Regions from separate parts of the Homo sapiens genome. Here region 2 is linked to region 1. The links come from fine-mapping of genetic effects on gene expression. Tissue or cell type: whole blood. Region 1 holds a variant in brackets; the other region holds the start of a gene. All regions are shown on one strand. Distances are from middle to middle.

What was found. PIP is the estimated chance that this variant, and not a neighbour inherited with it, causes the effect.
Region 2: it holds the start of NME8, and the variant in region 1 is fine-mapped to the expression of NME8 in whole blood (TOPMed, PIP above 0.99).

What each region holds. Positions count from the first base shown.
Region 1 is chr7:37,797,952-37,808,806 of GRCh38, forward strand. No RefSeq gene overlaps it. Among named protein-coding and RNA genes, the nearest start is that of NME8, 45 kb to the right of the region's middle. RefSeq lists an enhancer at 5,659-6,159. The variant C/T (reference allele first, on the strand shown) is at 6,187.
Region 2 is chr7:37,844,124-37,854,978 of GRCh38, forward strand. NME8 (NME/NM23 family member 8) reads left to right here and starts at 4,474. Exons shown (of 18, transcript NM_016616.5): 1 at 4,474-4,605; 2 at 4,701-4,933; 3 at 6,137-6,176; 4 at 6,255-6,312; 5 at 6,506-6,612. The coding sequence starts at 6,144.

The DNA of each region.
Region 1 (10,855 bases):
GAGCACTCTTTCTGTCTTTCTTGGATTGCTTCACTCTGGAGGAAACCAGGTCATAAGGCAGCCCTATGGAGAAGCCCATGTGGCAAATAATTGAGGCCTTCTACTAGCCATGCGAGTGAGCTTAGAAGTGGATCTTCTGAGACCTACCAATAGCTGTGGAGCAAGCTCAGAAGCAGATCCTCTCCCACCTCTCCCATTTGAACCTTGAGATGTTGGCAGCCTGGCTGGGAATTGATTGGTGCTTCATGATAGACCCTAAGCCAGAACCACTCCGCTAAGCTGCTGCTAGATTCCTGACTTGAAACTTGTTGTTTTAAGTCCTCATGTCTTGGAGTAACGTATTATGCAGCAATAGATAACGAATATAGTAAGTTATTTACACCTATAGAATGCTGCCACATAAGACACTAGTGTCTGACATTTACAACCTGCTTCTTAGTCTCTGCTTATTCCAGTTGCTGATGATAAAAATATATCCTTGCCTGTTGTTTGAGTCAATAAGAACTGTGCCTGGTACTGTATTAGAAGTTTTACTTCTATGCCTGAAAAGTAGGGGTATGAGCATATAATGTACATGGAGATACACTGGGCTCATTTAGAGTAAAGATTGCAAGGGGGTCAGTTGAAGAGTGGGTAAGAATTGCTCTGTTAGTCATGTTGAAATCTGGACCATTGGTTCTCCATATGTGGCCCTGGACCATCACTACCAGCAGCAGTAGCACCTATGACCTTGTTAGAAGTGAAAATTCTAAGAAGGAAAAATCAGTGGAGCTCCACCTGAGACCCACTGATTCAGAAATTCTGGGTGTGGGTTAGAGGTTCAACAAGCCCTCCAGGTGATTTTGATGCAGGCTAAAATCTGAGAACCACTGCACTGGATTAAGTTGATAAATTGAAAATGGGCACAAATTCTTTGAAACTGCTCCAATTGAGAGGTGGAATTTATATCTCCTATAATTTACTATGGGTGGAATTTGTTATTGCTTCAACCAATAGAACACAAGGAAAGTGGTGCTGTGCCAATTCTCAGCTGCAGGTTTTAAGAAACTAGCAACCTCCGCTTCCTGTCTCTTGAAGCATGGGTTCTTGGAGCCTGAACTCCATGAAAGAAGTCTGACTTGCATGCTGCAGAACATCTAGAGATGCCTGAGATTACATGGAGATACATGGAGATGTGCCCAGATATAGCCAGACTTCCAGTGAAGGCACCAGGCACGTAAACGAAGAAGCTGTCTTGGGCCCTCCAGAACAACCTATCTGCCATGGGAATACCACTATCTGACCTCAGCCCACACAACATGGCGCAGAAGAATTGCCCACTCAATACTGCCTAAATTCCTGATCCACACAATTATGAGAGAAATCGTTGCTTTAAACCACTAGATTCTAGGATTATTTGTTACATAAAAATAGATAATTGCCACATGTATTATTTAAAATTTTCTACTTACCATATTAAAAATTTTAAAAGGAAGAGGCAAAATCCACAATAATAATAATATAATTTGTTTAACCCATTATATCTAGCTAGCTATCAATCATCTACTTTTCTTTCTATTTATCTATTCTAGCTTTCTTTCTTTTATGGATTCTGACTTTGGTGCTGTCTTTAAAAAGTAGTCACCAAACCCAGGGTAATGTAGATTTTTTCCTATGTTATCTTCTGGTAGTTTTAAACTTTTGTGTTTTACATTTACGTATGTGATCCATTTTGAATTAGCTTTTGCGAAGGGTGTGAAATCTGAATCTAGATTCATATTTTTTGCATGTGGATGTCCAATTGTTTCAGCAACATTTGTTGAAAAGGCTAGCATTTCTTCATTGCATTGCATTTTCTTCTTTGTCAAAGATCAATTGACTCTATTTATGTGGGTCTATTTCTGGCCTCTCTTTTTCATTGATCTGTTTGCCTATACTTTTGCCAGTACCACACAAACTTAATTACTATAGCTTTGTAATATGTCTTAAAGTCAGGCACTCTTCATCCTCCAATTTTGTGCTTCTCCTTCATTGTGCTGGCTATTCTGGGTCTTTTGCCTTTCCACATAAATCTTAGAATAACTTTGTTGATATCCACAAAATAACTTGCTGGAATTTTAATTGGGATTGTGTTGATCCTATAAATCAAGTTAGGAAGAACTGATGTCCTGACAATATTGAGTCTGCCTCTCCGTAAACACAGAATATCTCTTCATTTACTGGGCTCCTCTTTGATTTCTTTCATCAGCTTTCCTCATGTAGATCTTGCACATATTTTGTTAGATTTACACAAAAGTGTATCATTTTGGGGGGCACAAATGTAAATGTTATTGCGTTTTTAATTTAAAATTCCACCTTTCATTACTGGTATATAGAAAACAGATTGACTTTTGTATAATACCCATGCATCCTGCAGCCTTGCTGTGCTTATTAGTTTTAGGAGGTTTTATTATCTGGTTTGTTCTTTCTGACTTTCTACATAGATGACTGTCATTTGTGAACAAAGATGGTTTTTATTTCTCCTTGCCCGTCAGTATGCTTTAAAAAAAAACTTCGTTTATTTGGTTAGCTAGGACTTCCAGTATGATACTGAAAAGAAGTGGTAAGAAGACCATCCTTGCCGTGTTCACAATCTTAGTGGGAAAGTTTCTCATTTCTTATCGTTACGTGTAATGTTAGCTGTCAGTTTTTTGATAAATATTGTAGGGGAGGCAAAATTTTACCTCTACCCTTGTAAAGTCCCAGTTAAGCCTGAGAATTAAATTGACTTAAGAGAGTAATGGGAGAGAAGCATACAAATTGAATTTAAATTTTACATGATATGGAGTCCTCATAAGGAAATGATGATCCAAAGAAGTGGCGAGTTTGTATGCTTTTATATTAGGTTGAACAAAGAGAGGTAGTCATGGAAAAGTAACTAAATTATATGGGGAGGCTAATGGAAGGTAGAAAAGGTAGAATTATTTTAACAGGATTTGTTTGCCCAGAATTCTCTGGATATGATTCTCTATTGAAGGATGTTTCTTTTCTCCTGCTATAGAGGGGGCATCTTCCCTATGAGTTTTTCTCTTCTGTTTTCAGGAAGAAAAGGGGAAGATTAGAATGCCTTCTTGCAAATGATGTTTTTTAAGTGCCTTTAGTCTGAAGTAATACTATGTCAAAGTGGCATATTTTGAGGTGGCGTGTTATGTCACCCTTCAATATTCCTTATCTAGTGTCCTCTATTCCTAGTTTACTGACAGCTTTATTGTGAAAGCATCTTGAAATTTATAATGATTTTTATGTATCCATTGATATCATCATGTGATTTTTCTTCTTTAGATTGCTGATGTGATGAATTACATTAATTAATTTTTGAATGTCGAACCAGTTGCCCACCAGGGATAAATCTCACTATGGGTGTGATATATAATTCTTGTTATTCATTGCTGGATTTGATTTGTTAATATTCTGCTGAGGACTTTTGCGTCTATGATCATAAGAGATATTGGTCTGTAGTTCTGTTTTCTTGCAGTGCCTTTGTCTGGTTTGACTATTATGGTGATGTTGACCTCATACAATGAGTTAGGAAGTATTCCCTCTGTTTCTATATTCTGGAAGAGATTGTAGAGGATTGGTATAATTTCTTCCTTAAATGTATGGTAAAATTTAACAGTGAACCCATCTGGGCCTGGTGCTCTCTGTTTTGAAATATTATTAATTATTGATTCAATTTCTTTAATAGATATAGTCCTATTTAGATTGCCTCTTTCTTCTTGCTTTGTCAGATTGTGTCTTTCAAGGACTTGGTCCCTTTCGTCTACCTTATCAAATTTGTGTTCATGCAGTTGATTATAATATTTCTTGATTATCCTTTTATTGTCTATGGGATCTCCAGTGATGTCTCCTCTTTCACTTCTGATATGAAGAATTTTTTTTTTTGATTGACCTAGCTAGAATCTTACCTATTTTCTAGGTCTTTTCAGAGAACGAGCATTGGGTTTCATTGATTTTTTCCTGTTAATTTCCTATCTTCAACTGTGTTGATTTATGTTGTAATTTTCATTATTTCTTTTTTTCTGATTACCTTGAATTTAATTTGCTCTTCCTTTTCTAGTTTCCTAAGATAGAAGCTTAGATGATTGATATTAGATCTCCCTTCTTTTCTAATATATGCATTCAATGCTATAAATTTCCCTTTAAGAACTGCTTCTCCTGCACCCCTCAAACATTTATAAGTTGTGTTTTCATTTCAATTTAGTTCAAAAATTTTTAAATTTCTTTTGAAATTTCTCTTTTGACTCATGTGTTATTTAATTTTGTTTGATTTCCATGTAGTTTAGGATTTTCCAATTATCTTTCTGTTATTGATTTCTAGTTTAATTTCACTGTGATATACACCAGATATTACATGACATTTCTATTATCTTTGATCTCTTAAAATGTGCTTTATGGCCAAGAATGTGGTCTATTTTGGTTAATATTTCACATGAGCTTGAGAAGAAAGTATATTCGGCTGTTGTTGTAGAGAGTTACAGATGTCCAGATGATTGATGTTGCTGTTGAGTAAAACTATGTCCTTGCTGATTTTGTGCCTGCTGGATCTGTTCATTTCTGATAGGAGGTACTGAAATCTTCCTCCATAATGGTAGATTAACCTATTTCTCCTTCCAGCATAATTAGTTTTTGCCTCATGTATTTTTACTCTGTTAGGCACATACATGTTAAGGATTGTTCTGTCTTTTTGGGTAATTGATTTCTTTATTATTAAGTAATGTCCTTCTTTACCCTTCCTAACTTTCCTTGTTTTGAAGTCCATTGTGCCTGAAATTAATACAGTGATTCCTGCTTTGTTTTCATTAGTGTTAGTATGGCATATTTCTCCTTTTCCCTTCCCTTCCCTTCGCTTCCCTTTCCTTTCCATCCCTTCCCTTTCTTTCTCTCTCTCTCTCTTTTTTTTTTTTTTTTTGGCAAGTTTTTGCTCTGTTACCCAAGCTGGAGTGATCATGGCTCACTGCAGCCTCAACCTCCTGGGCTCAAGTGATTCTCCTGCCTCAGCCTTTTAAGTAGCTGGGACTACAGGCACATCCCACCACATGCAGGTTTTTTTTGTTTTTTTTTTTTTTTAATGGAGACAAGGTCTCACTATGTTGCCCAGGCTGGTCTCGAACTCCTGAACTCAAGCAGTCCCCCTGTCTTGGCCTCCAAAAGTGCTGGGATTACTGGTGTGAGCCACCACACCTGGCCCATCCATCTACTTTTAATCTATGTGTCATTATATTTAAAGTGGGTTTCTTGTAGACAACATGTAGTTGTGTCATTTTTTTTTCATCCACTCTGCCAATCTCTGTCTTTCAACTGGTTATTTTATACCATTGACATTGAAAGTGATTATTGATATAGTTGAATTAATATTTACCATATTTAGTGTTTTCTATTTGTTGTTTTTGGTTCTTTGTTCTTATTTTGTCTTTCACTCTTTCTCTGCCTTTTGTGGTTTTAATTGAACACTTTATATGTTTCCATATTCTCTCCTCTCTTAGCATATCAGTTATGCCTTTTTTCACTTATTTTAGTGGTTGCCTTAGAGTTTGCAATATACATGTATAACTATTTCAAGGCAACTTCCAAAAACACTGTACTATTTCACAGCTAGTGCAGGTACCTTATAATAACAAAATAATTCAAACTCCTCCCTTCTATCCCTTGTATCACTGCTGTCATTCATTTTACTTGTATGTAAGCATATATAAGCACAGATAGACATATATGCATAAGATATACACATAAGTATACATAATTGAATGCATAGTTGCTATTATTATTTTAAACAAACTGTGCTGTGGAGTGAATGAAGACACTGATTGTTTTGCTTGTACCTCCAGCACACTGAAGCCACCATATTCAAAGGAGTCCAGTCTGTCTTCCTGGTGAGCCCCTGACCTCTCTGCTCTTCATCCCCTGGCTTGGACCTGCAGCACAGCCATCCTACTTCCACCTGAATGTTCTCATTGGCAGCAGCTCCATGTCTTTCTGGGGTGGAGTTCCCCGAGGCAACTGACAGCCCCCTATAACTGCCACTGCAGTGGATGCCCACCCTTGCTGCCACCAGACTGGGCAAGGAACAAAGAGCCCGAGTGCTTTATTCACACCTCCATGCCACAGCTGCTCTATGGAGAAGAGGCCAGACTGATTTTACAGCAAGCCTCCAATCCTCCAGCTCTTCAC[C/T]GGGAAGGGCCGCCTGGCTTGAGGCCCACAATGCAGCTGCCCCACCCCCAGCTGATCATTTTGATTGGTAGCAGCTCTGTGCTTCTCTGGGGTGAATCCTTCAAAGACAAGTGAAAGGCCCTCTGCCATTGCCACTGTCAAGGTCCCCACCCCTGCCACCCCCAAGCTAGGGAGAGAACAAAAAGCTTGAGTTCACAAAGGGGCTACAGTGCACAGCCTGGGAGTGCCAAGCTGAGATATATGGCCAACACTTGAGTGGGAGAGGGGCCCACACTCTCAGAGCACTGAGAGAGAGCATAGCTGCAATTGAGGAAATACAGAGGAACCATGTGGCTGGGTAAGAGCCTATCTACCAGCCATTACGGTTAAGTGCCATCTACTGGATGGAAGCCCAAACTTTAACACCAAAAATACATTGCTAACATACCTCCCCATAAAATTAAGGACAAGAATTCAGCCACAAATAAAGACCCTGCACAAAGCATCAGCCCTCTGAAAACATCCAGAAACAAATTCAACTGACTGTACTCAAATTACACCACAGTTAAAGGCACATCAGCCCACACAGATGAGCAAAAACGCAGGGAACTCTAAAAGCCAGAGTGTTTTCTTATTCCCAAATGACCACACTAGCTCCTCAATGATGTAGGAGTTAAAAAGAAATTACTTAGGCAGACAGTGAGGTAAGAAAGTCTTTAGTAAGGTTTTCCTTTTAATGAAAAGCAGCCCCCAAATCATTTTCTTTTCTAACAAAGAGCAACCTGTAAAATCGAGCTGCAGACATAGAAAGGCAAGCTAGAAGTTTGCACGGGGAAGTGATGGCAGCTATGCCAGTAGGAAAGGAGCTACCTGGGGACTAGGCATGTTCAAAATGTCAGCTCCTTCTTTCCTTTTCTTTGCCAAACCATATGTACAGTAAGGCGAAGACAACATGGCGCTGACAGGGCAAATATCCCATTTGCATAATAAGATTAGGGTGGGGAAGCCAGCTTCCTCACATGCTATGTAAATGTCACCCTAGTCTAATCAATCTTTGGGTCCTATGTAAATCAGACACCGCCTCCTCAAGCTTTTTTATAAAATCCTGAGCACTCCACTGTGGGCCAGAAGTCCCATTTGGGCACCCCTCTCTAAAGCAGGAGAGAGAAGTGTTCTCCTTTTTCTTTCTTTTGCCTGTTAAACCTCCGCCCCTAAACCTACCTCTTGCATATGCATACTTGATTTCCTTGGCATGAGATGATGAACCTTGGTTATTTACCCCAGACAATGATGCCGCTTCACCAGTGATGGTTCTCAACCAGAATGAAATGGCTAAAATGACAGACATAGAATTAAGAATCTGGATAGCATTGAAGATCATTGAGATTCAGGAGAAAATTGAAACTCAATCCAAGGAATCTAAGAAATCCAGTAAAGTGATTCAAGAGGTGAAAGGCAAAATAGGTATTTTAAGAAAGAACAAAACTGATCTGATAGGGCTGAGAAACTCACTAAAAGAATTTCATGACACAATCAGAAGTATTAACAGTGGAATAGACCAAGCTGAGAAATGAATCTCAGAGCTCAAAGCACAGTTCTTCAAATTATTTTAATTTCAAACTATTTTAGTCAGACAAAAATAAAACAACAAAGAATTTTTAAAATGAACAAAACCTTTGAGGAATGTGGGACTGTGTATAGAGACCAAACCTACAACACATTGGCACCCCTGAAAGAGAGAGAGAGAGAGACCAAGCAACATAGAAAACAAATTTGAGGATATTATCCACAAAAATGTCTCCAACCTCACTAGATAAGTCAACATTCAAATTCAGGAAATTCAGAGAACCTCTGTGAGCTACTTTACAAGACAAACATCCCCAAGACACATAGTCATCAGATTCTTCAAGGTCAATGCAAAAGAAATTATGTTAAGGCAGCTAGAAAGAAGGGGCAGGTTAACTATAAAGGGAACCCCACAACATTAACAATAGACCTTTCAGCAGAAACCCTACAAGTCAGAAGAGATTGGGGGCCTATATTCAGCATTCTTAAAGAAAAGAAATTCCAAGCAAGAATTTCATATCCAGCCAAACTAAGCTTCATAAGTGAACGAGAAATAAAATCTTTTTCAGATAAGCAAATGCTAAGGGAATTAGTTACCACTAGACCCGCCTTACAAGAGTTGCTTAAGGGAGTGCTAAATATGGAAGTGAAAGACCACTAATGGCCACCACAAAAACATACTTAAGTACATAGACTATTTACACTGTAAAGCAACTACACAATCAAGTCTACCTAACAACCAAGAACATGATGACAGGATCAAATCAGCACACATCAATATTAACCTTGAATGTAAACAGGCTAAACACCTCACTTCAAAGGCAGACTGGCAAATTGGATAAAGAAACAGGACTCATAGATAGCTCTTATTATTTTGAGATACGTCCCATCAATACCTAATTTATTGAGAGTTTTTAGCATGAGGGGTTGTTGAATATTGTCAAAGGCCTTTTCTGCATCTATTGAGATAATCATGTGGTTTTTGTCTTTGGTTCTGTTTATATGCTGGATTACATTTATTGATTTGCGTATATTGAACCAGCCTTGCATCCCAGGGATGAAGCCCACTTGATCATGGTGGATAAGCTTTTTGATGTGCTGCTGGATTCGGTTTGCCAGTATTTTATTGAGGATTTTTGCATCAATGTTCATCAAGGATATTGGTTTAAAATTCTCTTTTTCAGTTCTGTCTCTGCCCGGCTTTGGTATCAGGATGATGCTGGCCTCATAAAATGAGTTAGGGAGGATTCCCTCTTTTTCTATTGATTGGAATAGTTTCAGAAGGAAGGTACCAGTTCCTCCTTGTACCTCTGGTAGAATTCGGCTGTGAATCCATCTGGTCCTGGACTCTTTTTCGTTGGTAAGCTATTGATTATTGCCACAATTTCAGCTCCTGTTATTGGCCTATTCAGAGATTCAACTTCTTCCTGGTTTAGTCTTGGGAGAGTGTATTTGTCTAGGAATTTATCCATTTCTTCTAGATTTTCCAGTTTATTTGCATGGAGGTGTTTGTAGTATTCTCTGATGGTAGTTTGTATTTCTGTGGGATTGGTGGTGATATCCCCTTTATCATTTTTTACTGCGTCTATTTGATTCTTCTCTCTTTTTTTCTTTATTAGTCTTGCTAGCGGTCTATCAATTTTGTTGATCCTTTCAAAAAAACAGCTCCTGGATTCATTAATTTTTTGAAGGGTTTTTTGCATCTATTTCCTTCAGTTCTGCTCTGATTTTAGTTATTTCTTGCCTTCTGCAAGCTTTTGAATGTGTTTGCTCTTGCTTTTCTAGTTCTTTTAATTGTGATGTTAGGGTGTCAATTTTGGATCTTTCCTGCTTTCTCTTGTGGGCATTTAGTGCTATAAATTTCCCTCTACACACTGCTTTGAATGTGTCCCAGAGATTCTGGTATGTTGTGTCTTTGTTCTCATTGGTTTCAAAGAACATCTTTATTTCTGCCTTCATTTCATTATGTACCCAGTAGTCATTCAGGAGCAGGTTGTTCAGTTTCCATGTAGTTGAGCGGTTTTGAGTGAGTTTCTTAATCCTGAGTTCTAGTTTGATTGCACTGTGGTCTGAGAGATAGTTTGTTATAATTTCTGTTCTTTTACATTTGCTGAGGAGAGCTTTACTTCCAACTATGTGGTCAATTTTGGAATAGGTGTGGTGTGGTGCTGAAAAAAATGTATATTCTGTTGATTTGGGGTGGAGAGTTCTGTAGATGTCTATTAGGTCCGCTTGGTGCAGAGCTGAGTTCAATTCCTGGGTATCCTTGTTGACTTTCCAATATCATACTGAATGGGCAAAAACTGGAAGCATTCCCTTTGAAAACTGGCACAAGACAGGGATGCCCTCTCTCACCACTACTATTCAACATAGTGTTGGAAGTTCTGGCCAGGGCAATCAGGCAGGAGAAGGAAATAAAGGGTATTCAATTAGGAAAAGAGGAAGTCAAATTGTCCCTGTTTGCAGACGACATGATTGTATATCTAGAAAACCCCATTGTCTCAGCCCAAAATCTCCTTAAGCTGATAAGCAACTTCAGCAAAGTCTCAGGATACAAAATCAATGTACAAAAATCACAAGCATTCTTACACACCAATAACGACAAACAGAGAGCCAAATCATGAGTGAACACCCATTCACAATTGCTTCAAAGAGAATAAAATACCTAGGAATCCAACTTACAAGGGACATGAAGGACCTCTTCAAGGAGAACTACAAACCACTGCTCAAGGAAATAAAAGAGGATACAAACAAATGGAAGAACATTCCATGCTCATGGGTAGGAAGAATCAATATCGTGAAAATGGCCATACTGCCCAAGGTAATTTATAGATTCAATGCCATCCCCATCAAACTACCAATGACTTTCTTCACAGAATTGGAAAAAACTACTTTAAAGTTCATATGGAACCAAAAAAGAGCCTGCATTGCCAAGTCAATCCTAAGCCAAAAGATCAAAGCTGGAGGCATCACGCTACCTGACTTCAAACTATACTACAAGGCTACAGTAACCAAAACAGCATGGTACTGGTACCAAAACAGAGATATAGATCAATGGAACAGAACAGAGCCCTCAGAAATAACGCCGCATATCTACAACTATCTGATCTTTGACAAACCTGAG
Region 2 (10,855 bases), 46 kb after region 1:
TTTAAAATTGGAATTCAGAATCCGTGATTTTGATCTAGTGGAGATAGGAGAAATTTTTTAAAAGTTATATAAAGTTCTCCTGGATAGATGACTAGCTTACTTCTATCTCTAGCTGAAGTGATAAAATTAAAGTAAGTCCCTATACCATTTATTTTCTTTATAGTCTACTTAATTACCTGGACCAGATTTCTTCTTTTTTTAAGCATTGTGTCTTTATTTTATTAAACTTTAAAAATATTTTTCAACTTTTATTTTAGAAATGAGGGGTACACGTGCAGATTTATTGCATGAGAATATTGCATGATGCTGAGGTTTTGGGTACAAATCCCATCACTCAGGTAATGAGCATAGTACTTGGTAAGTAGTTTTTCAACCCACGTCTCCCTCGTTGTCTCCCACTTATAGTAATCTGCAGGTCTATTGTTCCAATATTTATGTCCATGTGTGCTCAGTGTTTAGCTTCCACTTACAAGGAACAACATGCAGTATTTGGTTTTCTGTTCCCACATTAATTCATTTAAGACTATAACCTCTAATTGCATCCATGTTGCTGCAAAGGATATGATTTCATTCTTTTTAATGGCTGCGTAGTATTCCATGGTGTATATGTTTATATACACATTTTCTTTATCCAGTGTACCATTGATGAGCACCTGGATTGATTCCATGTCTTTGCTATTGTGAATAGCTCAGTGATGAACATATGAATGCATTGTCTTTTTGGTAGAGTAATTTACTTTCCTTTGGGTGTATATCCAATAAGATTGCTGGGTCAAATTGTAGCTCTCTCCATTTTAAATTCTTTGAGAAATCACCAGACAGATTTCTTGGATTCAAAAATTAAGAATTTTGTTTATCTTCATTAAAGAGTACATAAATGTGTCAAGAATATCTGCTATTTCCAAATGCACTAGCTTGCTATCTAATTTTAAAGTGTTTATGCAAAAATGGTGATGCTAGGTGCCAGAGAGGATTTCAAGAGGAAGAGAGCAAAGCGAAAACAATTCTACAATCCAGTTCTTATTTTCTGGGTCTTCATATATATTTAGAAGTCATGAGAACACACAAATGAAACAATTAGGCACTAATAAACTTGTGCCCCAAGGAAAGCAAATTGAGCACTATACATAGTGCTGTGTGAGGGTAAGAAAAGGCAGGTCAATATAAGAGAGTACCTTTAATGAATGTTGAAAGATAAAGTCAAATATATTTAAGGAGCAAAACAAACTATTAGGTCCCTTCAAAAGTAACATCTCTCATAGGCTTTTTGGCAGTTATAGCTTACACTCTCCTATAATAAAATATACATTGTCTTGTAACCAACATTTTCAGAGAATTTGCCCTTAAAGTCAATTCTGGGCAGACCCAAGTCAAAGGCTCTTCAGGTTTATGTTTTAAAGCCTCAACATTCAAAGTTTTTGCAATTAGTAGTAATGATGTAAAAAAACAAAAAAACAAAAAAAACTAATTACACCTTCCTTCCATGTATTGGCCACTGGTAAATGTTTGTTCTAATTTGAGAATACATTGAAACTTCTTGCATCAAAGTGTTATATGAAGAATTTGCCTGAAATATTTGCATGAGCATTTCACCATGTGAACTATTGTGTTGAATCAAAGAAGAATCAAAAGTCAGTTTACTAACAGTCTGACTCTGGTGAAATAGCAATTATAGGAAATACATAAAACTTCTTTGAAAATAGCAGATGGTTTTAGACCCTTGAGGAATCGCCACACTGTCTTCCACAATGGTTGAAATAATTACACTCCCACCAACCGTGTAAAAGCGTTCCTATTTCTCCACATCCTCTCCAGCATCTGTTGTTTCCTGACTATTTTTAATGATCGCCATTCTAACTAGTGTGAGATGGTATCTCATTGTGGTTTCGATTTGCATTTCTCTAATGACCAGTGATGAAAAACTTTTGTTCATGTGTTTGTTGGCCTCACAAATATCTTCTTTTGAGAAGTGTCTGTTCATATCCTTTGCCCACTTTTGGATGGGGCTGTTTGTTTTTTTCTTGTAAATTTGTTTAAGTTCCTTGTAGATTCTGGATATTAGCCCTTTGTCAGATAGATGGATTGCAAGAATTTTCCCCCATTCTCTAGGTTGCCTGTTTACTCTGATGATAGTTTCTTTGGCTGTGCAGAGGCTCTTTAATTAGATCCCATTTGTCAATTTTGGCTTTTGTTACCATTTGACCCAGCAATCCCAGTACTGGGTATATATCCAAAGGATTATAAATCATTCTATTATAAAGACACATGCACATGTATGTTTATTGGAGCACTATTCACAATAGCAAAGACTTGGAACCAACCCAAATGCCCATCAACGATAGATTGGATAAAGAAAATGTGGCACATATATACCATGGAATACTATGTAGCCATAAAAAACGACGAGTTCATGTTTTTTGCAGGGACATGGATGAAGCTGGAAACCATCATTCTCAGCAAACTAACACAAGAACAGAAAACCAAACACCGCATGTTCTCACTCATAAGTGGAAGTTAAACAATGAGAACACGTGGGCATAGGGAGGGAAACATCACACACTGGGGCCTGTCAGGGGGTGGGGGGCTAGGGGAGGGATAGCATTAGGGGAAATACCTAATGTAGATGACAGGTTGATGGGTGCAGCAAACCACCATGGTATGTGTATATCTATGTAACAAACCTGCACTTTCTGCACATGTATCACAGAACTTAAAGTATAATAAAAAAAAAAAAAGGAAAGAAAATTGCAGATGGTGAAGTGAAGGAGTACTACATGTCCTGTCTTGATAGGATATGATCCTGGTCAAAAATCCTTCTGTAGGTAGCCGTGCTCATCTATTAGGTCCACTCCAGGGATGAGGATCCCTACAAAAAGGTTCATTGTGTCCCTCTCTACTCTACAGTTGCTTTCTGTATCTCAGCCTGTGGATTAATCAGAAACTATTGTGAAAAATTATTTCCAGATGCTGCAAGTGGGAGGGAGGAAGGAAAGTAAAGAGAAAAAGAACGAAAGAGAAAGAAAGAAAAAGAAGAGGAAGAAGAAGAAGAGGAAGAAGAAGAGGAAGAAGAAGAAGAAGAAGAAGAAGAAGAAGAAGAAGGAGACGGAGGAGACGGAGGAGACGGAGGAGACGGAGGAGGAGGAGGAGAAGGAGGGGAAGAGGAAGGAGAAGAGGAAGGAGAAGAGGAAGGAGAAGGAGAAGAAGAAGAAGACGAAGGAGACGAAGGACACGGAGGAGACGGAGGAGACAGAGGAGACAGAGGAGGAGGAGGAGAAGGAGGGGAAGAGGAAGGAGAAGAGGAAGGAGAAGAGGAAGGAGAAGTGGAAGGAGAAGAGGAAGGAGAAGGAGGAGGAGGAGAAGAAGAGGAAGAGGAAGAGGAAGAAGAAGAAAGAAGAAGAAGAAAGAAGAAGAAGAAGGAGAAAGAAGAAGGAGAAGGAGAAGGAGATGGAGGAGACGGAGGAGGAGGAGAAGGAGGGGAAGAGGAAGGAGAAGAGGAAGGAGAAGGAGAAGGAGAAGAAGAAGAAGAAGAAGGAGATGAAGGAGATGGAGGAGACGGAGGAGACGGAGGAGGAGGAGGAGAAGGAGGGGAAGGGGAAGGAGAAGAGGAAGGAGAAGTGGAAGGAGAAGAGGAAGGAGAAGAGGAAGGAGAAGGAGAAGGAGGAGGAGAAGAAGAGGAAGAGGAAGAAGAAGAAGAAAGAAGGAGAAGAAGAAGAAGAGGAAGAAGAAGAAGAAAGAAGAGGAAGAAGAAGAAAGAAGAGGAAGAGGAAGAGGAAGAAGAGGAAGAGGAAGAAGAAGAGGAAGAAGAAGAAGAGGAAGAGGAGGAAGAAGAGGAGGAGGAGGAGGAGGAAGAGGAGGAAGAGGAGGAGGAGGAGGAAGAGGGAGAGGAAGAAGAGGAAGAGGAAGAGGAAGAAGAAGAGAAAGAAGAAGAAGAAAAAGAAGAAGGAAGAAGAAGAAAGAAGAAGAAGAAAAGAAGAAGAAAAGAAGAAGAAGAAGAAAAGAAGAAGAAAAGAAGAAGGAAGACGAAGAAGAAGAGGAAGAGGAAGAGAGAAGAAAGAAGAAGAAGAAGAAGAAGAAGAGAAGAAGAAGAAGAAGAAGAAGAAGAAGAAGAAGAAGAAGAAGAAGGAAGAAGAAGAAGAAGAAGAAGAAGAAGAAGAAGAAGAACAAGAAGAAGAAGAAGAAGAAGAAGAAGAAGAAGAAGAAGAAGAAGAAGAAGAAGAAGAAGAAGAAGAACAAGAAGAACAAGAAGAACCAAACCAGGGTAGATGAAGACAAAGTTAAAAAGAAAGAAAAGGCTGGTGCTGGCAGAGAGCCTTCTGCTCCGATTTGAGGTGTATGCATTTTATGCTGTAAAGCGTGGCCAGTCACAGGAGGATTCAAAGGCGAGGAGAGATATGATCAAATCTGCACTTGGGAAAGCGCACCTTGGTGCGCATCTGGGGATAGAGGAACGTAGGGATGGGAGGATGGGGGATGGGAGTTTGGGGATGAGGCAGCTGAAGAACAGAGTCTTGTGATGGTGGAACCAGGACTTCGTTGTTCCTTCATTGTGTGGGCAGAAGAGGTGGAGGATTTTAGGCGCCACCTGGTCTTGTCCCCACTGCCCAGGTATAGCTGCTGTCTGGAGCAGGGGCCTCGAGACGCCGCTCAAGTCTCACGGGCAGATGGGTTGGACAAAACATTGCCCCCCTTCTTCTTCCCAGACAGGCAGGGAATCCCTCTTCTTCCTTTTGCTGAATCAGCTGGAGAAGAAAGCCCAGCAGGAGGCCTGCTAGCCTCAGCCTCGGGCCCTACCAGGGTCCTAGGTACTGGAATGGAACTTCGCCGAGGTCACCGCTCAAACGGCCACAACGAGGGAGCCGATTTAGATCCTCTGGGCCTGTTCCTTCCTTTTCTTTAAACGTCCCAGTCTAGCTTAGAGGAGGACCTGTTTTGTGTAAGGCTTGCCGGAGCAACCAGCACCTTTCCTGGAATACAGTCTTGTTTGTGGCTTTTCCTTTGTTGTACGCTAGCGTGCACTATCGCCCGCACGCTGACTGACCCCTGTTCTACACCGCCCCTGATACCACTGAATAGGGAGTTTGAGAAGTTTATGTCGTGCCCCAGAAAACACTAGTGGCCTTGTTCTCAAGATTAAATATCCTTAGAGCAGCCAGATCTGAAGAGGGACCCCAGAAAGATCCACGGGCATGTTCATTTGTTTGCAATTGATAATATAGGAAACACTTTCTAATATTTCAGGAAAACAAAACCTTTAAAAAAACCAGACGACGTGTAACTCCTAACATTCTTACCTTGCTTCAGGACTGTTGGGAGGATAAGATAGTGTGGCAGCTATAAGCATTTAGCATAGAGCCTAGCATACAATAGTCCTTCCATGACATTAGCTTCTCTCTCCCCAGCAAAGATGACACTGCATAATCCAATGTACAGTGGGGAAATTTTTCACTAGTACATTAAGATGTTATTTGCAGTTAGAAAGAATGAATACTGTAATCCCAGCACTCTGGGAGGCTGAGGTGGGAGGATCACGGGTCAGGAGGTTGAGACCATCCTGGTTAACACGGTGAAATTCTGTATCTACTAAAAATACAAAAAAAATTAGCCCGCCGTGGTGGCGGGTGCCTGTAGTCACAGGTACTCTGGAGGCTGAGGCAGGAGAATCGCTTGAACCCAGGAGACGGAGGTTGCAGTGAGCCCAGATTGTGCCACTGCACTCCAGTCTGGCAACAGAGTGAGACTATGTCTCAAAAAAAAAAAAAAAAAAAAAGAACAATGAATAAGACCTAGTATTTGCTAGCACAAACAGGTGACTGCAGTCAAAAAATCTAAATTGTACATTTTAAAATAACTAAAAGAGTATAATTGGATTGTTTGTAACACAAAGGATAAATGCTTGAGGTGATGGATACCCCATTTACCCTGATGTGATTATTATGCATGGCATGCCTGTATCAAAATATCTCAGATTTAAATACACAAATATTTAAGTACATAAATACAGAGATACATAAATATATACACCTACTATGTACCCACAAAAATTAAAAATTGTTTTAAAAGATGTTATTTGCATGCATAAAGAAAATGTTATTTAAATTTCCTACTTAAAAATTTTTCTTTCTTTTTCCTATGATAGTAGATAAATGGCAAGCAAAAAACGAGAAGTCCAGTTACAGGTGGGTCTGACATATCAACAATTCTTTATCTGGTGCACTAGTGCTTGAATACCTTTTACAGTGCCTTCCACTTTGCAGACAGTCATCAATAATCAAAGCCTGTGGGATGAGATGTTGCAGAACAAAGGCTTAACAGGTATAAGGACTCCCCGGCTGTCTGGCCACCTGGGGTTTGACCCGGAGCTCCTCCTGGCACCCTGTCCCTCTAGAGTCCCCACTTTGACCAAGAAATCCTGCAGTGCCTTTGCCCTGGCCATGGCTCCAGATTGGGATAACTGCTATCCTAGATTGGTAGACTTTGTTATTTCATAAATATCATCATCTTCTAGTGATTGATGTTTACCAAGCCTGGTGTGGACCTTGCAGAGCAATGCAACCTTTATTCAGAAAATTGAAAAATGAACTGAACGAAGACGAAATTCTGCATTTTGCTGTCGTAAGAATTTTGTTTTCATTAAACCACTGTTTTCACATTATATTAAGTTTTTAAGTATCCTCTAATACTTTAAGTATTGTCTTAATTTAAACAACCTGTCAGTTCTTCAAAATAGATAGTCTTTACTTGGCAGTTTTACTATATATTTAATTCTACTAGATCTGAGAATGAATATGATTTTTATCCCATTCTTATAACGTCGAGGCTATTTACCATGACTGTGAAAGTCAGAAAAGTGTAATAATGGACACATCTATTGTTCTGTTTCCTTTCACCTGACCACATGTTCAGTGTGTGTCCTTTAGAATAAGGGCTACAAAAGCTGTTTACTGGGTATCATTGAGTAGTGCCCTGGCATTAACCCAGTTACCATATTTTCCAGTGGCAATGATTTTTCCTCATTTATTTGCTACCTACTTGCAATAAGGGATTAAAATATTATAGCCAAACACATTTTACTGAATTGTACTGTTTTTTCAATCTATTCACATAAAATGATCAACTAATTAGAATTTCGTTGTCCAACATGGTAGCTACTAGGCATAAGTGACTATGGAGCTCTTGCAATGTAGCTGGTCCAACTGAGGAGCTCAATTTTTAATTTTAATGAATTTAAATCTGGATTTTCAAACTGATACTCCATTGAGTTATTGTAAAACTTTTAAAATCTGGGATAACTTGAGTATGTGAATCTACTACTTAACTGTAAATGTTATTAAAGCTAATTAAGGATTAATTATTTCTGATTAACATTTAGCATATGAATTAAGACATACTCAAGTGTAAGAGACACATTAGATTTTAAAAATTTAATATGGAAAAAGAAAGTGAAATATGCCATCAATAATTTTATACATTGATTACATGTTGAAATGATAATATTTTGGATGTATCGGGTTAAGTAAAATTTATTATCACATTATTTTCACCTTTTTTTGTTTTTAAATGTCCCTACTGGAGAATTTATATGTGTGGCTTATATAATATATTTATATTATATAGAAAAGCTCCCAAACCAACTAGACTTAAGATACAGGAGCAGATAACAGATGATAACAGATCTTTACTCCTTATCTCTGAAATACATAGTTCCTAATGCAGACATGCAACCACAACCCACTCATGTTCTCCCAGTTACAGGTCTTTCATGGCCCCTTTCAACCCAAACATTGGAATGGGTTTGCCTACTGACCTTGTATTTCACTATCCATCCCCTTCTTTAAATGCATTTTCCATAGGACTTATTTTCCTTAGTTCAAGATGATGAATAAGCAGTTTAAAGCCTAGACACTCACCTCTTATTATTTTTCTATTCAAGAGAGTAAGTGGCTGTCTACAGTAGTTAAATCCTGTTGTCCTGGTGAAGGAATTGACTTTTTTTTTTTGTCTTCTGAAATAAGGACTTTGTAAGGTTTTCATTCCTTTAATTTTTTAAAAAATGTCTTTATATAGATGTTATTTTTAGAGCAGTTTTAGGCTCATAGCAAAATTTACCAGGAAGTAAAGAGTTCTCATATATCCCCTATCCCCACACTCTCATAGCCTTTTCCACCATCAAAATCCCACATCAGAGTGGTACATTGTTACAACGGATTAGCCTACACTGGCACATCATTATTTACCAAAAGCCGTAGTTTACATTAAAGTTCATTCTCGGTGTTGTACATTTTAGGGAGTTTAACAAATGTGTAATGACATGTACTTACTATATTATGGCATCATATAGTATAGTTTCATTCCCAGCAAAATCCTCTGTAATCTGTTCATCTCTCCCTACCTCATAACCTCTGGCAACCACCAATCTTTTGACTACCTCCATAGTTTTCCCTTTTCCAGAATGTCATATAGTTAGAATCACATAGTGTGGAGCCTTTTCAGATTGGCTTCTTTTACTTAGTGATATGCGCCATGTCTTTTAATGATTTGATAGCTCATTTCTTTTTAGTGTCAAATAATACTTCATTATCTGGATATACCAGGGTTTATTTATCCATTCACCTGCTGAAGAACATCTTGGTTGCTTCCAACTTTTAGCAGTTAGGAAAAGGCTGCTATAAGCATCCATGCTTAGGTTTTTGTATGAACATACTACACTTTCAACTCATTTGGGTAAATACCAAGGAGTAAGATTGCTGGATCATGTGGTAATGATATGTTTTATTTTGTAAGAAACCACCAAATCTTCCTAAGCAGCTGTACCATTTTGCATTCTTACCAACAATGAATGAGAGTTTCTGTTGGTCCACATTCTCACCAGCATCTGTTCTCTGGATTTTGGTCATCCTAATAAGTGTGTAGTGGAATCACTTTGTAGTTTTAGTTTGCGTTTCCCAAGATTATGTGAGGTGGAGCATCTTTATATATACTTATTTGCCATCTGTATATCTTCTTTGAGGAGGTGTCTGCTAAGGATTTTGGCTTATTTTTTTAATTGGGTTGTTTGTTCTCTTATTGTTGAGTTTCAAGTATTCTGTGTATTTTGAATAACAGTCTTTTATCAGGTATTACTTTTGCAAATAGTTTATCCCAGTCTGTGGCTGGTTTTTTCATTCTCTTGTCATTGTAGTTTTTTTAAAGACGAGATTCTGTAACAACCTGTTTCACTCTGGAGAATCACAACCACCAGAAAGGAGCTAGGAAATTATTCTAGACTTGATTCTTCACAGAGAAGAAAAATCAAGTTAGAAGACCAGAGAATAGAGCCTAAAGGAGATTGCCACATGCAGTTGGAAAGGGGTTGATAGAAGTTAAAATACAGTATCACAAGTGTCTAACAGCTGACAGATGGATCACAGGGAATTGAGGATCAGGAAATTCTTGTGAATCCTGGCAGTTGGCATTAGGAAAGTGGCAGTAGACGTTCACATAGACTAGGGGTTCCAGATTCTGGTGACCTGCCCATAAAGGTGAAAGAAAATTATATCTCCAAACCTCCATTGTGAGCAGCAATGGAGGGATGCCCTCTGCCGGACATATTGTTTTCTGCTGTTAATCAAGGAAGAACTTGAACATGTAGGTCCAAAATTAAAATGTATGAGGTTATTTCCTATTAAAATTGCCCTGAGCTGAATGGTCAGTATACAATTTTTTTCTGCTGTGTGCCTTTTTAAAAGAGGAACATTAAATATTTTATATATATAGAGAGAGGCATATAAAAATTTAGTTAATAGTGTTTATTATAGTTACTGTTATATTATTATTAAATTATTTAATCCTTAATAATTTATGTATTATAATATAAACATTATAATTATAATACCTGAATTACTTCTAAATAGAGTTGACCCTTACCAATGCTGGAGTTAGGGGTGCTAACCCCCCACGTAGTAAAAAATTCATATATGACTTTTGACTCCACCAAAAGCTTAACTACTAATAACCTACTGTTGACTGGAAACCTTATGGGTAACATAAACAGTCGATTGATACATATTCTGTATGTTATGTGTATTATATACTATATTCTTGCAATAAAGTAAGCTAGAGGAAAGAAAATAGTATTAAGAAAATTATAAGGAAAACAAAATATATTTACTATGCATTAAGTGGAAGTGGATTACCATAAAATTCTTCATCCTCATCATCTTAACATTGAGTAGGTTGAGGAGGAGACGAAGGAAGAGGAGTTGGTATTGACGTCTCAGGGGTGGCAGAAGCAGAAGAGGTGGAGGAAGTGGAAGGGGAGGCAGGAGAAGCAGGCATAGTGGATGTAATTTTATGGAAATACGTGGTAATTTCTGTCTGACGTTTTTGCTTTTTCATTGCTCTAAAAATGTTTCTATGTGGTACCAATCCTTCTTCCACCATTTGCTTTGGTTTCAGTGCCCATATCATAGAAGGGTCCATGTCATAAATGAAGTCAAAAGCAGTCTTGAATAACTGGAATTCTTCTGCCAGATGTTCTAATGTCAGTTTGTTTTCTGGCACTGGCTCTTCTACATCTTCTCCCTCATCGTCTGGCACTGCTTTAGAGGCACTCATCTCTACCAATTTGTCTTCTGTTAATTCCTCTGGTGTGGTGTCTCTCAGCTCTTGGATTTCTCCAACATCCATATCTTGAAACCTTTCACCCCCCACCTTTTTGCCACATACACAATCTCTTTTATGACTTCCTTAATTGGCTCTGTCATAAATCCCATGAAGTCATGCACAACATCTGGACACAATTTTCTCCAGCAGGAATTTATTAATTTGTGCTTGATAGCTTTTGCAGCTTTTTCTATAACAATGATGGCATCTTCAA